Regions from separate parts of the Homo sapiens genome. Here region 2 is linked to region 1. A link means that fine-mapping ties the variant in region 1 to the expression of a gene that starts in the linked region. Tissue or cell type: whole blood. Region 1 holds a variant in brackets; the other region holds the start of a gene. All regions are shown on one strand. Distances are between the middles of the regions.

Evidence for each region. PIP is the estimated chance that this variant, and not a neighbour inherited with it, causes the effect.
Region 2: it holds the start of DNHD1, and the variant in region 1 is fine-mapped to the expression of DNHD1 in whole blood (INTERVAL, PIP above 0.99).

The regions. Positions count from the first base shown.
Region 1 is chr11:6,524,174-6,532,277 of GRCh38, forward strand. DNHD1 (dynein heavy chain domain 1) reads left to right here. Exons shown (of 43, transcript NM_144666.3): 11 at 4,349-4,614; 12 at 4,705-4,948. Among named protein-coding and RNA genes, the nearest start is that of DNHD1, 31 kb to the left of the region's middle. The variant G/A (reference allele first, on the strand shown) is at 4,184.
Region 2 is chr11:6,492,883-6,500,986 of GRCh38, forward strand. It overlaps DNHD1 (dynein heavy chain domain 1), which reads left to right and starts at 4,398. Exons shown (of 43, transcript NM_144666.3): 1 at 4,398-4,449; 2 at 4,703-4,785; 3 at 4,889-6,079. The coding sequence starts at 5,334.

The sequences.
Region 1 (8,104 bases):
TCTCATAGGTCTTGGCACCTAGAATCACTGCTCTTCAAGCTTGTCTTATATTTTGGAGCTCACAAAACAGACAATTACTAACTTCAAAGGTAGAGAAGAAGTAACAGCACCCATCTTCACAGAATTTGAAAGTAGAATATCAGGAAGAGAACCCCTGTCTCTCAAATTTCTGCTTATCCCTTTTTTCATCTCTTCTCTCTGTGTATCTTTCCAGTTCCTCTGCCCTGATTCCTGAGTCCAGTTATCTCTCCTTCCTTTGGACTTTCTGTTCCCTTATAACTACTTCTTTCAAATAACTTAAACTTTTTATGACACCGACTCCATCCTTGACTTTATATGATATTTGAGTTTTCCTGTCCGTGAGACTGATTTAGTTCAAACTTCAAGACAAGGAGTATGATTGATTCAGCTTCTCCTGTAGATTGCATGCTTTATTCATAAGCTATGGCAAGGGGATGTGTCATGGTGCAAAATAACTGGCTTTTAGCTATAGGCAAGGGTAGATCCTCTTAGAAGGCTGTGTATGGTGGGGGAGGTTGCAGTCTTCAGCTATGCTTGTGTTTGGCTATAAACGTCTATTATATGGGCCTGAGTATGGGGGTTGATTTTGGATTAAGTAATCTTAACTCAAAACTACGTACGCACCTATAACTAAAAAATTCATGATGCAGCTAGATTCAGCTGCAGTGGCCTAAACAAAATAAAACAAAACAAAACAAGAAGTCTTGAAGTAGGTGCTTCCAGAGTTTGTTCTGTGGCTCAAAAGTGGTCATCAAGTACCAGGTTCTTTGTATCTTTCCATCACTCTTTCCTGCTTTTAGCTATATTTAAGAGCAGATTCTGTAAGAGAGTTATGTGTGGCGGAGGAGGCCACAATAAAGTGGTTTTCATTTTTTTTGTTTTTTCATTCTCAGGCTTGTTGCCTCATAGTTGCAAGACAAGCTGCAATGTCAAGCATCCCATTCTCAAGCAAAATCAGGCAGAAAAGGAGAGGCAAGGTTAACAAGAGAGCTCTGTGTCTGACTCTCACTTTTTGCCAGGAAAAGGAATCTTTTCCGGAAACTCCCCATCAGACTCACTTTTACATCTCACCATCAAAATCTGCGTCATCTGTCTACCTCTAGCTGTAAGATAGGCTAGGAAATCAAATGGCTGACGTTCTCAGTGTCTCATGGGAGATGGTTCTACAACAATAGAGGAAGGGAGAAGGGAATAGCTATTGAGTAATCAACCAATGTACCTTCAGAGTTCCATTCTTCAGGTAGGCTCTGTCCACCTGGCAAGCAAGATAATCACCAGCATTCTCTACATCGTCATTTCATACTATACTCTTTCCCTTCTATCCCTCACTTAATCTTAGTTCTGTAAGTAACAATATCTTTAAGCCCACTAGCAGCCCTTGTGTTGATGTCTTTCTAGTAATTTTGTTTGTCTGAAGGTCACTTTTTACTAAATTCCTCAGGAAGGGCTTGTAGGGACAAAATTCTGAAGTTCTTCTATGTTGATAACAATTTGTACCTTTTGAAAGTTAGTGTTGCTGGATATAAAGTTGTTGGTTTATACTTTTTTCCTTTGTGTATCTTAAATATGTTACTATGTTTTCTTAGGACATTATGAGTTGCTATCAAAAAGCCTTCGATAGTCTAATTTTATTTGCTTTACAAAATCACTTGTTCTTTTTGCCTAGATTTTTTTTCTTTTTTATTGAAATCTAGTTATTTTTGTTAGAATATGTGTTGGTATTGAACATTCTGGGGAAGGATTGTCAGGTATGTTCTTTCAAAATGTGGCTTTATATCTTTTTTTAAATTTCAGAACAATTTTTCTGAATTACGGTTTTTAATATTTGTTCTCTTCCCTTGCTTTGTTTTTTTCTTGGGGGAATCTTGTTACTGATACATTAGATCCTTATCACCCATCCCCAATATTTTTCCCTTTCTCTTGAAATCTTTAAAATTGTTTATTTCCTTTTTAGTTGTATAATTACCCTTATTTTGCCTTCTATTTTTCTTGAGAAATTATCTGTCGAGTTTGTTTGCTCTTATGTCCCATTTTAGTTAAATTTCCATTATGAAATTGTTTTTTCTTTCATTTATAATTCTTTCCATAGTTCTGTCACATAATTTCTGAGTTTTTCTAATTCTGATATGTGTCCTCTCATGACTTCTATCATTTTTCTATTGTCTTTTAGCTTGTTTTGAAATAGGCTATAGTTTTGCTCTGGTTTTTGACATGCTTTCATTGTCTCTGGGGATTTATTCTATGCCTCGCTTTGTTTTTTTCTTATAAAAGCTTGGTATGGGGTTTGATGCTGATACTTTTCTACTGCTCATAGAAAACTGGAAATTTTAGCTTTTCTTAACTTTCAAAAGAAGACTTGGTTCAAAATAGTTCTCTAACCTCTAAGTTTCACTTTCTATTGTTTTTCTGTATTAAAAAAAGATGGCTTACTTTCTGAGGTTTTCTGGTTTCCCTCCCCTACCTTCATCTAGACTTTTCCTTTTTCTCTATTGCTGCTCAATCCTTATTCTACTCCCAGCATTTTCTCCATGACGAGCTCTGTCCCAAAAGGGAGCCCTGACTGTTTGGTTTCAAGAGTACACAGGGCATAGATTACTTAAGCTTCTATAGACCTTACCTCACCTGTTCTTGGAGGGGGTAAGACCCCCTTCCAGTTTTACCTGCTGTTCTGAAATGGGCCCTCTGCCTCCCAGTAAATGCTTGATGACTGTTTGGGGGTTTTCTTATTCTTAGGTCCATCTGTTGCTTCATTGTTTCCCTCTGCATCATTCATCACAAATGGTGATGCCATGTGTGTTTTGAGGTTGCAGATGGTTTGACCCCACCTACTTGTATTTTAGGATCTGTGAGGATCCCTTGCCCTCATTTGTTAAAAAATGCTATCCTTGTGTTTTTGGTTTTATTATCTAATTGTTCTGTCATTTTTACGTGGGCATTTGGGGGAGATTTCAAAATGATGCTGCCATTGCCATCATCTTCTCAGAATCCCTTCTGGCATTTTTTTTAAAGGATGATTCTTTTTCTTATATGGAGCAGAGACTGTAAAGTATAGGAGGCAAGGGCCAATGCAGGTAGAAAAGTTAGAAGGCTTTTGCAATAATGCAGTAAGAGATGATGGTGACTTGGGCTGGGGGAGGAGGGCAGGTGGTGGTCAATGTGGTGAGAATTGGTGGATTCTGGATATATTTTTAAAGTAACGACAACAGGATTTTTAAATGGGATGTGTTGTATGTGAAAAAGAGTCAAAGGTGACTATAAAGATTTTGACTGGAGAAACTGGAAGAACAGAGTTTCCATTTACTGAAGTTGGAAGACTGCAGTTTTGGCGGGGAGGAATTAGAGTTCATTTTGGCTCTGTTAAATTTGAGGTGCATGTTAGACATCCAGATAGAGAAGTGAATTAGGCAGTTCTTTAAATGGGATTGGAGTTAAGTGAGAGATCTGGGCTACAGATAAATCTGGGAGCAAATATATGGTACTTACAGCCATAAAGCTGGATGAGATTTCCTAGAGAGTGAGTACAGTTGGAGAAGAGAAGAGATCAGCTAGGAGTACTACAGGGTTTGGGTGTGGATAGTATGGCTCTTATTCTGAACATTTTAATTCTTTCCTTTATTTTGTGCGAAGTTTTAACACAAATACTAAACTTGTCAATTAACCAGTTCCTAAAGAGTTAATGAGTGGCTAGGTTCAAGAATATTCTCTAAGACAGATAACTGAGGACTGGCATGTTCAATATTCATTCCCAGCAACTCCTCTGTTCTGCAGATGCCAGAGACTACAAACTACACTTCCCAGACTCGCCTGCAGCTAGGTGTCATATACAATTTAGGATCCACCAGTTAGATCTACAAAAGACTTTGATTCAGAATTGAATTAAGAGGGGGAAAGAGTCAGGGCGTATGCCATCCGTTCTGTGGATCATAGCAGAGGCAGTGTGTTCTGTAGTTGATGGTGTGACAGTGATATCCCATTTTGCCAGGCAGAACACAGCCCTAGATGCTCAACCTTGAGTGGTTTTGTATTTTAGCTCTCCTATTATTCTGCAACCCATTTAATATTCTGTAATAAGTCCCTCCCTGCTTAGACTAGCTAGAGTAAATTATGTTATTTGCACATGAACCCTAACTAATAAATCCCCTCCATGGGTCTAGTATTTTAC[G/A]TTTGTGATATAGATGTATGTGTTAACTCACTCATGAGCAGCGAATGGGTGTGTGTGTGTGTGTGTGTGTGTGTGTGTGTACACACACTGAGGGCAAGGAGAAAGGAAGATTGTTTGTGGGCTCTGGAGGGTACTCACGGACAATTATGGCCTGTGCTCCACTAGAAGAAGATGAAGAGGAGGACTCAAAAGACGAATTTCTGATGCCCAAGTTCCAGGGCCAGCCCAGCGATGCTGTGAGCATCTTCTGTGGCCCGAATGTGGGATTGGTGTGGCCCTGGAAGTCTCACCCAATTGCTGGTATCTTGGAGGTCCGTGGATGTCGGCTGCGGGGCCAATACTTCCCCCACAATTATAAGCAGCTGGAGGAAGACCTGGACAACAACCCTAAGATCCAGCAGGCACTGAATATACAACAGGTGCTGCTGGAGGTGAGAACAGTGGTTTAAGGGATAGGGCGCTGCCCACCAATTCCCATTATAGCCGCATGCCTCTGCCCTAAACACCTTGTCTGCCCTTAGGGCGTGCTGTGCAAGGTGCAGGAATTCTGCAGGGAACATCATTGGATAACAGGCATTTATGAATTCCTGCAATCCTGGGGGCCTCAGAAGCTGGAAGACATGAGAGGTGGTCCCATCAAGAACTACGTGACGCTGGTGAGCCGCCTGAATGTTTGGCAGGCCCGTGTCTCCAGTATGCCTATCGAGTTGCTCACAAAAGGCGGGTTGCTGCTACTTAGCTGCCATGATGTACAGGCAGAGATGGGTGAGTACTGCTTCTCTTCCCTCTCCTCCTTCCCTTTTCTGTATGTCTATTCACATGGCCTGCCTTGGTCCTGGAATGTCCTCCGGAGACCTTCGGTGCAGGCCTCTTATTGGACCTATGAAGCCTTCCAAAGCCCGAGGTCCCAGGCCCTTTCCTTTGCCATCAAAGCTATGCTCACTGCAAAGGCCGGCCTCTCTGTTTTGGCTCTGCTCATACCCTGTATTCCTTAGGAATCATGTTCCTGTGCTTGGGCTACTAAGCTCAGTGTCTTTACAGAGATTCTTGGGAATCTAGGGTGCTTTCTCTCTGCATGTAGCTGAGTGAAATTTATACTACGATTTGCATATGTAAAAAGCTACTCTCTAACTGAGCTTGTCTTACTCTGTAGTCCTAACTTCTACTGGTAGTGAAAGAATGTAACCTTTCCAATTAAAGAAAGCTCCTTTCATTTAAAGCAGTCACTTTTGGTCTGATTCAGTCTATTTGGGATATCTGGGCAATTGAAAATTTATACTGTAGTTCTGGGTTGTTTTTACTTTCAAATGTCTTTTCCTCCCTTTTCCTTCCCAAGGTGCCACCTGTACTGGGGAAGGCCGGTGGGCTGGCTTCTGAGGTGTGATACATCCTTGCCTGGTCTCTGCCCTCCTGACATTGCTGCTTCTGGTGCTGCTGTGTCCTGGGCTGGTAGAGCTGCGATGTGTTTTCTTGGACTAATAGGGACCTGGAGTGTCTGTCTTTGCTGACCTGTCCTTGTCTTAACATTTGCTGGCATAGCTGATCCTTGGGGTTTTAGTGAATCCTTCATCCAGTCTCTGTCTTAGGCTGGCTACCCCCATGGCTTTTGCTTCAGGGTCCCTAGCCCCTCAACACAGGAACTTCATCTAGGCCACTGGCTATCAATTCTCTGCTATCATCTATATCCCCTGCCATTTGGGAGTTGTGGGAAACTGGTAAGCATTATATCCGCCCCTCTTTTTACTACAACACATAACAGTATGATTTCTACTCTGCTGTGACTGTTTCATGTTAGCAAGGGACACCCTAAAAGGTGGTCTTTCCCAAAGTTCTATGTGGAAAGTGGGGCTCAAGACCATTCTACTACCTATTTTCTCCTCAACCCATCTCAGGTTCCCTCCTCTTGCCACTTCTACCCCTGCTAATTGAACGCCCAATTGTTGCTATCCCTGGGTCTCTGAGAAATCTGGCTTATGACCTAGTCTTTTACCCTCTTTTCTTTCTTCCTTCCCATGGGAAGGATATCTCATGCTATTGTGTACTAGCTAGTGCCTCAGCCTAGGAGTTCGCCACAGAGAGGCTCACAGCGGGGTAGATTTGGAAGCCAGTGATTTGTTCTTTTAGGAAATATGGAGGTTGTTCTCTTTCCTCACCTAGCCTCAAGGATGGCAATAGCCAATAGTATCTACTTCCTGTGAAGACTAGATCCTGTTGGACCCGTGGCTTCCCAGGCCTGCTTTCTTTATGAAGGTTAGAAGCCACTGGGGCCTGGAAAGAGTTTGCTTGTATGCCCTGCTTGCTTCGCCTTCCCTGTCTTGGCTCTCAACAGATGAAAGCACATGTATCATTAGGTATCCAGTGGGCCACTAAAACTCCCTCCTCTTGTACAGGGGGTTCAGGCGGGCAAGGCAGGAACCGGGAGGACGTTTGATTGTTTTGTCTTCTCTCTGGCCGTGTTTTGGTCAGGCTTTACTTCACTGCTGCTGAGAAAGCTTATTGTTGTTCTAGTTTGTTAGCTTCCTGATCCTCAATCCAGGACCAACTAGTCTCTTTAAGAGGAGCAGGTGGAGAGAAATGAGCACTGGATTTAGAACCCTGTCTGTTTTTCACTTGCTTTGTAACTTCAGATTACTGTGTTTTAGTTTCTTTATTTGTAAGCTGGGCATGATAACACAGTCACTCACAGGGTTATAGTAAGGATGACTAAGATATTATTTGCAATACTCTTAGCATTGAGTGTGGCATGCAGTAGGTGCTTAATATTTTTTTCATTTCACCTTATCCCCTTGTATCTACTCTCATCCTTCTTGCTGATCTAATTTTATCTAACCCTCTGACTTAACTCTGTCGTTTCTCTTCTTCCTGAACTCCCTTGAACAACAAATGGCGTAATTATACACTCTGACGAATTAGCTTCACCAGAAACTTGGGGTCACCCTTTACTCCTCCCTCTCCTTGACCTTACTACATCCAACCTGTCTCCAAATCCTTGTCATTCTTCTGCCCCCTAAGTATCTCTTAAATCTGTTTTTATCCATCTCCAGCTTCTAATCCCAAGGAGTCCTGGTATTTTATCAATGCATTGCTCCTTTATACCATACGGTGTCACTGTTGAGCTCCCATCTGCCTTCATCTGCCTGTTGCTACTGGTCCAAAAGCAGCACCATAAACAAACAAACAAACAAACAAGCAAACAAATGTGGCAGCATTGCAATGGCCTAGTTACTGTTATGTTCCAAAGGGACAGTGTGAAAAAGGATGAGTTTAGATCTTCATGTTCTGTTTGATATAGGTTGTCCCTCAATAGGCTTCCTCTCAGCAGGTTTTCTTATTATCAGGTCTTAGTACCCAGTCATCTTGGTTACTTCCTCCAAGTCTCTGAAAGTGACATACCCAGTATGTCTCAATTATCTGTCCCCCAAACTCACTATTTTACTTACTAGTTGCAGAGATGCTAATAGAGGATCGGTCAGTTTACTTTGCACATAACATAAAAAATATTTTTAAATACTTTTTATAAACATATATTTTTATGTTTACATTTATATTTATAACATAAACATGTTTATATTTAAAATATAATGAAGTGGAGCCATGCTGCCTGAGTCTGAATCCTTGCTCTGCCACTGTGTGATGTTGATCAAGTGACATAACCTCTCTGAGCTTCAGTTTGCTTATCTGTAAAATAATAGTATTTACTTCAAAGGGAATTTGTGAGGATAAAATATAATTAAAGTACTTGAAATAGTGTCTGGTATGTAGAAAGCACTCTATACTCTATTTGGTGTACCATATTTCTATATTGTATTTTTCCTATTCTGTGCATATTTTAACATCTCTGAACTTTAAAGGTGTCTCATGATTGAAGATGTGTTAGAGTTTAGATGGCATCAGTTTTTTTTCTTTGTTAGTGGTATATAA
Region 2 (8,104 bases), 31 kb before region 1:
TAAGGACTATTGTGACTCAGGTACCGTTCCTTGCCCTTTTATGAAAGAGTTGTCCATGCTCTTTATTCATGCCCTCACTGAATCCTTTGTCTTGTTCATCGTTATGTCAAAATTAATAACAACTAAACACTTAACAATTATATCAAATGTCTACTACTTACCAGGCTCTATTCTAAAGCATTTTGTGTGCATTAATTCACTTAATCCTCACAATACTATAAGGTAGACATTATTATCTTCATTTTCAAAAAGTGAAACTGAGGTAAAATATCCCATGACTAGTAAGTGATGAAGTTAGGATTTCAATCCAGGCAGTCTGATTCCAGAGCCCATCTTCTTACTCACAAATGAAGATTGTTATACATTTATGTATTTTTTTCCATGAATATTTTCTGATCATGTACTCATGGTGCCTAGTATAGGAGCTGGGGATAGAGTAGGCAGCAATCAGAATCTCTGCTACCATGGAGCTTATATTTCTAGTCAGGGGAAATAGGAAATAAATAAGTATTTATATGAAGTGGTAATAAGTGCTGTGGAGAGAAGTAATGCAAGTAAAGAGGATAAGGATGTTGGGGAGAGAGTTGCTATTTTCTGTTGGGCAGTTAGGGAAGAACTCACTAATAAGGTGACATTTGAGCAGAGAATTGAGAGAGTAAGCCTTGAGAGCATCTTGAAGAAGTGTTCACTCTTCTACTGTTCAACTAGTTGTGTAAACCACTAGTGGTCCTCTAGTATCCATTGTCTCCTTTCTTTATGTAAAGAACCTCTAAATTTTCTGTTGGCATATGACCACTGAAAATGAAGATTAGATTTTGTAGCTTTCCTTACAGCTAGGCTTGGTCATGTGATTGATGTGTGCAGTTGCCAGGCTGTGCCCTTAAAAGAAAGGGTATGCCTTCTCCTTTCCTTTTCCCTCCATCTCACTAGTTGGGATGGGACGTGGCACACATGGTGGTAAATTATTTTGGACCTTAAAGATGAGGACTACTTCCTTGGAGAAGGCAGAACAACTGAAGGCTACCGTGGTAGCCTCAGAGTACTTATATTTGGATGGTTATGTGAGAGAAAAAAATAAACTATCATGTTTAAGCCATGATATTTTGGGTCTTTTTATTACAGCATTTGTGTGGTAGGTAGAAGTTTTAGATCAGGGGTCCCCAACCCCCGGGCCACAGACTGGTACCAGTCATGGCCTGTTAGGAACCAGGCTACACAGCAGGAGGTGAGTGGTGGGTGAGCAGGTGAAGCTTCATCTGTATTTACAGCCACTCTCCATCGCTCACATTACTACCTGAGCTCTGCCTCTTGTCAGATCATTGGTGGCATTAGATTCTCATAGGAGCATGAACCCTATTGTGAATAGCACATGCTAGGTGGCATGCTCCTTATGAGAATCTAATGTCTGATGATCTGTCACTGTCTCCCATCACCCCCAGATCGGATTGTCTAGTTGCAGGAAAACAAGCTCAGGGCTCCCACTGATTCTACATTATGGTGAGTTGTATAATTATTATATATTACAATGTGATAGTAAAATAAGTAAAGCTCACAATAAATGTAATGCATTTGAATCATCCTGAAACCGTTAACCCCTCCCCTGGTCCGTGGAAAAATTGTCTTCCACTACACTGGTCCATGGTGCCAAAAAGGTTGGGGACCACTGTCTCTGAGATTTCCTGCTCTCTAGTATATATCTCCCTAGTATACGCTGCATATTCCATGGGACTGTGAATGTGACAAATTTTACTTATGTGAGAAGGTTATAATATATGGCATAGTTGACTGTAAGAGCGATTGTCTGGGTGGGCCTGATCTAGTCACATGAGTCACATGAGCCCTTTAAAAGCAGAGTGTTTTCTTTATGGTTGCAGAAGGGGACATCAGAAAAGTGTGAAGCATGAGAAGGGTTAGAGGCACTGTTGTTGGCTTGAAAATGGAGGAACCACATGTCAAGGAAGACAGGTGGCCTCTAGGACCTGAGAGTGGCTCCTGGCTAATGGCCATGAAGAAAACAGGGACATCAGTCTTAGAACTGCAAGAAACTGAATCTTGCCAACAACAATAATAGCTTGGAAGTGGATCCCCCCACACCCCCCACCCCCTAGAGCCACCAGATGAGTAGCCCCGTCAACATGTTGACTTCAGGCTTATGATACCCTGAGCAAAGAATCCAGTAAAGTCATGCTGGACATCTGATCTACAGAACTGTGAGGTACTACATAGGTGTTGTTTTTAAGCTGCTTAGTTTGTAATAACTTGTTATGCAGCTCCAGAAAACTTGCGCGTTAGTGGGGGTTCTCCAGAGAAACAGAACTGATAGGCTGAGAAGTCCCACAATCTGCTGTCTACAAACTAGAGAACCAGGAAATCTGGTGGTGGAATTCAATCCAAGTTTGAAGGCCTGAGAACCAGGAGCACTGATGTCCATGGACAGAAGATGAATGTCTCAGCTAAAACAGCAAGTCCACCAGCTGCCTGTTTAAATTCTGTTTAGGCAACAGATTGTACAATGCCCATCCACATTGGTGAGGATGATCTTTACTTAGTCTACCTATTCAAATACTAATCTCTTCCAGGAATACCCTCAAAGACACACCCAGAAATAATGCTTTACCAGCTATCTGAGCATCCCTTAGCTCCGTCAAATTGACAAATAAAATTAACCATCACAGCCGGGCATAATAGCTCGCGCCTGTAATCCCAGCACTTTAGGGGTGAGGTGGGAGGATTGCTAGAGGCCAGAGGCTCGAGACCAGCCTGGGCAACATAGTGAGACCCTGTCTCTACAAAAAAATAAATAAATAACAGTCATAACTTGTGTATCTCCTAACTGATACACAAGCAGACAGCACAGCTTGTATGTAGTCTGTGAGGTGGGGGTATGGCTGGTGTGATTCAGGCACAGCAGTAGTAGAGTGTGAATGTGAAGAGAGAAGCCTACAGAGGTAGCAGGCAGTTATCAGCAATTTGTAGGCCATGATAGGACTTTGGCCTTCAGCTGAAGGAATTAGATGAGGGGGCATTAGTGAGCTATGAGCAGAGGAGTTATAGGATCTGCCTATATTTGAAAAGGATCACTGGCTGCTCTAAAAAGAATGGATTGTAGGGGCAATGGTGAGAAGCATGAGAAGGATCTGAGGCAAGGAGAACAGTTCAAAGGCTGTGGAAAAACCCAGGTGAGAAATGATAGCAGCTTAGACCAAGGTTGTAGTACTTAAGATGGTGGGAAATAGTTGGATTCTGGATATATTCTGAAGGCACAACCAGCAGAATTTCCTGAAGGATTACTTATGGAGGGAGGGGGAGAGAGAGAAAGAGAAAGGGAAAAAGAAGAGGGAAAGAGAAAGAAGGGGTTTGGAAGAGGTCTCAAAGCTGACTCCAAGGTTTTGGTGTGAGAAACCAGAAAGAATGGATTTGCCATTGACTGAGGTGGGAAAGACAGTGAAAGGAGCAGCATTTCTTTGGTGGGGAAAGGGTGGTTAGGAGCCTGCTTTTGGACATTTTAAGTTTGAGATACCTATAAGCTCTCCAGGTGGAGACATTAAGTAGGCAGTTGGATATACTAATCTGATTTCAGAGGAGAGGTGGGCTGAATTTCTTTTTTTATTTTAATCATCAACTTTTTTTTTTTTTTTTTTTTTTTTGAGATAGAGTCTCCCTCTGTCGCCCAGGCTGGAGTGCAGTGGCGCGATCTCTGCTCACTGCAAGCTCCGCCTCCTGGGTTCACGCCATTCTCCTGCCTCAGCCTCCCCAGTAGCTGGGACTACAGGCGCCCACCGCCACGCTCGGCTAATTTTTTTGTATTTTTAGTAGAGACAGGGTTTCACCGTGTTAGCCAGGATGGTCTCGATCTCCTGACCTCGTGATCCACCCGCCTCGGCCTCTCAAAATGCTGGGATTACAGGCATGAGCCACCGCGCCCGGCCTCATTCAACTTAATTTTTAAAAATTAGCCCCTCCATAAGCCCTTCCCCAAAAAATCCCCCTCCCCCCGTGCCAAATAGATGTTGAGCTCCTTGAGATCAAGGATTTTGTTTTATTCGGGCTTCTTTTGGGGAGGTGGGATAGGGTAGATGGATACGTTGGGGGTGGGGATGGGGGAGTACCAAAGACATACCAAAGACCTGGCACTAGTTTAGATACTCAGCGAATGGATATAAACACCTGCTTACGACACCCTCTGGATTGCTAGTCTCCCGAGTCAACCGTACTGCACGTGCAGTTCAGACCCCGCCTGGTCCTCTACAGGTCCCTGTCCCAGGCAAGCCTTAGCCCACAGGTTGAACCTAGTTCTGCCCCTCCAGGCTTGGGCTCTGCCCTCTCGGCCCCGCCCATATCGGACCCTGGCCCCTCCTCTTTCTGGCTCCCCCGGATGCTCCTGGCAAAGACTCGGTCCTTCTGGAATCTTGTAACGGTTCTAACAGCTGGGTGCGGGTGGAGCTGCGGGTGAGTCCTCGGCTCCGGATCCATTTCTCTTTGTTCCCTAGGACCCCCTCCCACAGAGTCCGCCTCCTCTTCCCCGCTCTCCCAGCCCCCTCCTTTGCCTGTTAACGTCTTCCCCTACCTGCATCCTGACCATCATTTGCTGTGCCTGCTCCTCGGCTTTCTGTCTTCACGACCTCCTTAGGCTGTGGGCGAAGACGTCATGGGACTGGGGCTCTGCTGCCTTCGAGTGACGACCTGTTAACCCGTTTTTCAGGCGATCGCCAGCTCGAGTGCAGATTCCTTGCTGTGACCGAGGTTCAGAGTGAGCTCTGTCGGTGTGTCAGTTTGCCTCTTCAGGTGATTGCACGTCTGTGTGCGAGTCTCTCCGTGTATGGGTGGCTATGATTAGGGTGAGCCTCAGACTGGAACTCAAGTCTAAGTTCATTCACTGCTCCAGCAGGCACTCTTCAATGAAACCTCATCAGCAGATCGGGCTCTCTTCCCTTGCCTTGCCTCCTAACCCCCCTAGGCCAGGTGAGGGGGACAGGGTACTGGGAGGTAAGAAGGAACTCTTCTGCAAGGAGGGCTCTCACGTCTGTCTTAGGCCTGCTCCTTACCAGAGTCTTTGGGGAAGCAGTAGGGAGGGCCTGAGGGTCTCAGGAAAGGCTCTCTGCTGGTCTGGCTCTGCTCTGTAGCTCCATCTATTTCCCTGTCCCAGGTCCTTTCTTCCTCCTAACCCCATTGACTCTGACCATCCCCTGCCCAGAGCCTGAGGTCCCTTCTCTGGCCCCTCTGCTGGGCTGGCCCATGCAGGTGAGGCCCCGCATCTGGCATCCTGGAACTGGCAGTTGGAGCCTGAGCTATGGGCAAGGTCACTTCGACAGCAGTTGAATGCCCAGCTCCTCATGGTCCCGGAGGAGAGGAGGGTAGGTTTGTCTTCTGATGAGACATCATCTGATTCCCTTAAGTCTTGGCACTCCATATGTGTCTTGGACAGCAAAGAACAGCCCTTGGCCTGCCAGCAGAAACAGAGGCAGTTCGTGAAGCCAGTGACTGAGTCAGAGCAGCCCACAGTGCTGGAACTCCTGCTAGCTGAGCTCCGAACTCTGTTCTCAGCTGTGTTGCAGGACAGTAGCCCTGCAGCTTGGCGCTATCTTCATGCAGTACTGGGTCTACTGCCTCCATATCGTGAGTTGCTAGTTGGCCACCTTGATTTGCTGCCCTTCCTGGAGCAGCTGTACTGCTGGGCACCCTGGGTCCAAACCCACCTCCATCTGGACCTGCTAGGTGCCATTGTCCAGGCCTTTCCTCCAGACAGCTCTTTGTTAGACAGTGCTTCCCATGCTGACTGCTGTCCCCAGAAGCGGAGGCTCCATCACAGGCCCCCATGCCCAGCTTGCCCTTTTGTGCAGGCCCAGTGGAGCAGGCAGCAAGTAAAGGAGGAGCTGGCCACCTGGCTGCGACCATTGACACTGCCTGAGCTACAGCGCTGCCTGGGCATTGTTGGTGCTCAGGTGGCCCTAGAAGAGGCTGTGTGGCTGGATGGACTTAGTCTCCTTCCCTTGGCACTGGCAGCGGACATCCCTGTACGGTATGAAAGCAGTGACACTGACAATGCAGAGGTGGAGCCTGTTGGAAGAAAAGAGACCAGGTAAGTGAGGGACTCAGTCTAGGGCTTGAGCAGAGGAGAAAAAGTTGCTGTTTTATGGGTGCCTCTGGGGTCACTTGGAAGTTTAGATCCAGCTCTCTGTTTATCACAGGGATTAGCCCAACTCCACACAAAGCTAGTGTGAGGCTACTTTCCTCTTCCTTTTTCTCTGCAAAATAAACCCAGTGGTGTTAGTCTTAATCCCCATAGAGAAATACAGAAATTAATGAAAATCAGAAGTCAGCTATGAGGCAGCCAAAGCTTTAGAATAACAGCTTGACTTTTCAGTTTCCAGGTTTTTTTCTTAGATGATGTCAGAAGTCTCCTTAATTATTTTTCTATAATTCATTCATAATCACTGAACATTGCCTGGGCCTACTGTGAGTTGATTCCTGGATGTTGGGTCTTTCCCTCAAGGTACCCCTGGGGAATGTGTGTCCGAGTGTCCTTCCCACATGTCTATGTGACTTAAACCGGCTCCAAGGCAGAGTGGAGTTGGCAGCACTACTGGATAGAATTTCATTTTGACCCTTCCAGAGTCTTCTTCTTGCCCTGCCAGTGTGGGCACTCTGGCCCCTTGAGTGATATATTTTTCTTTTGTTTCTTTCTTTCTTTCTTTCCTTTTTTGAGATAGAGTCTCACTCTGTCGCCCAGGCTGGAGTGCAACGGCATGGTCTCGGTTCACCGCAACCTCCGCCTCCCGGGTTCAAGTGATTCTCCTGCCTCAGCCTCCTGAGTAGCTGGGACTACAGGCACGTGCCACCATACTCAGCTAATTTTTATATTTTTAGTAGAGACGGAGTTTCACTATGTTGGCCAGGCTGGTCTCGAATTCCTGACCTCATGATCCGCCCACCTCTGCCTCCCAAAGTGCTGGGATTACAGGCGTGAGTCACTGCGCCCGGCCCTATTGTTTTCTTTTTTAAAATATCTGGCTATCAGAGCTCTCTACAGGATTTCAGAATGCTTACAGAGACCTTCTCTTCTCAGCGTTCTCTAACTTTCGATTTTTTTTTTTTTTTCTGAAACAGAGTCTCACTCTGTCGCCCAGGCTAGAGTGCAGTGGCCTGACCTTGGCTCACTGCAACCTCTGCCTCACAGGTTCAAGCGATTCTTTTGCCTCAGCCTCCCGAGTAGCTGGGATTACAGGCTCATGCCACCACGCTCAGCTGATTTTTGTATTTTCAGTAGAGACAGTGTTTCGCCATGTTGACCAGGCTAGGTTTCCAACTCCTGGTCTCAAGTGATCTGCTCACCTCGGCCTCCCAAAATGCTGGGATTACAGGCATAAGCCACCGTGCCCAAGAGAGTTTTTTAACTTTAGTTTTGGAATTCTCCTTGTCCTCTGGCCTCATTTTCTAGACAATGCTTTGCAGCTGTCTGTGGCACATTTACTGTTCGGGAAGAAGGCTAGTTTTACCTTTAATTAAGGTTGGCTTCCTCAGTTTTTGCTGTAAGTTTATGGCTGGGTCAAGTCTTTCCATTAAAGCCTAATGTTAGATAGATAGGCAGGCTCCTGGGGCCCTAATGGGAGGTGGCCAATGCCATAAATTTATGGTGGCCCTATTGGAATCTTTTCCTTTTTCAAAGAGCTGCCCTGTGCCTTGAGTACAAGTTTCCTTTCCTGGGAGAACTTGACTGAATTGGCATGGGCTGAGATGTTGGGAAGGGATCAAGTTCTTTGCCCTCCCTTTGAACCTGGCAGTAAACCTCTGAGGTCTAGCTAATATGGCTTAATTTGCATTACGTTCTCCCGGAGTGGTTTGCCAGGCATTCATTCATTCAATAAGTGTTGGATAGCTACATTTATTAGGATCTGCAAGATGCTAGGGATACAGAAGTGAATGAGACAGACTCAATCCCTTCACTTGAGGTATTACAGTTTAGTTAGGGAGATATAGTTAAGTTGATAACAAGTAAAATATAATTACAAATTGTAATAAGTGCTATAAAACAAAAGAATACTGTCTTTTGCCTGGCTGCTTCTCTGCAGGTGGGAGAGAGAGAGAGAGGGAGTGTAGTTAGGGG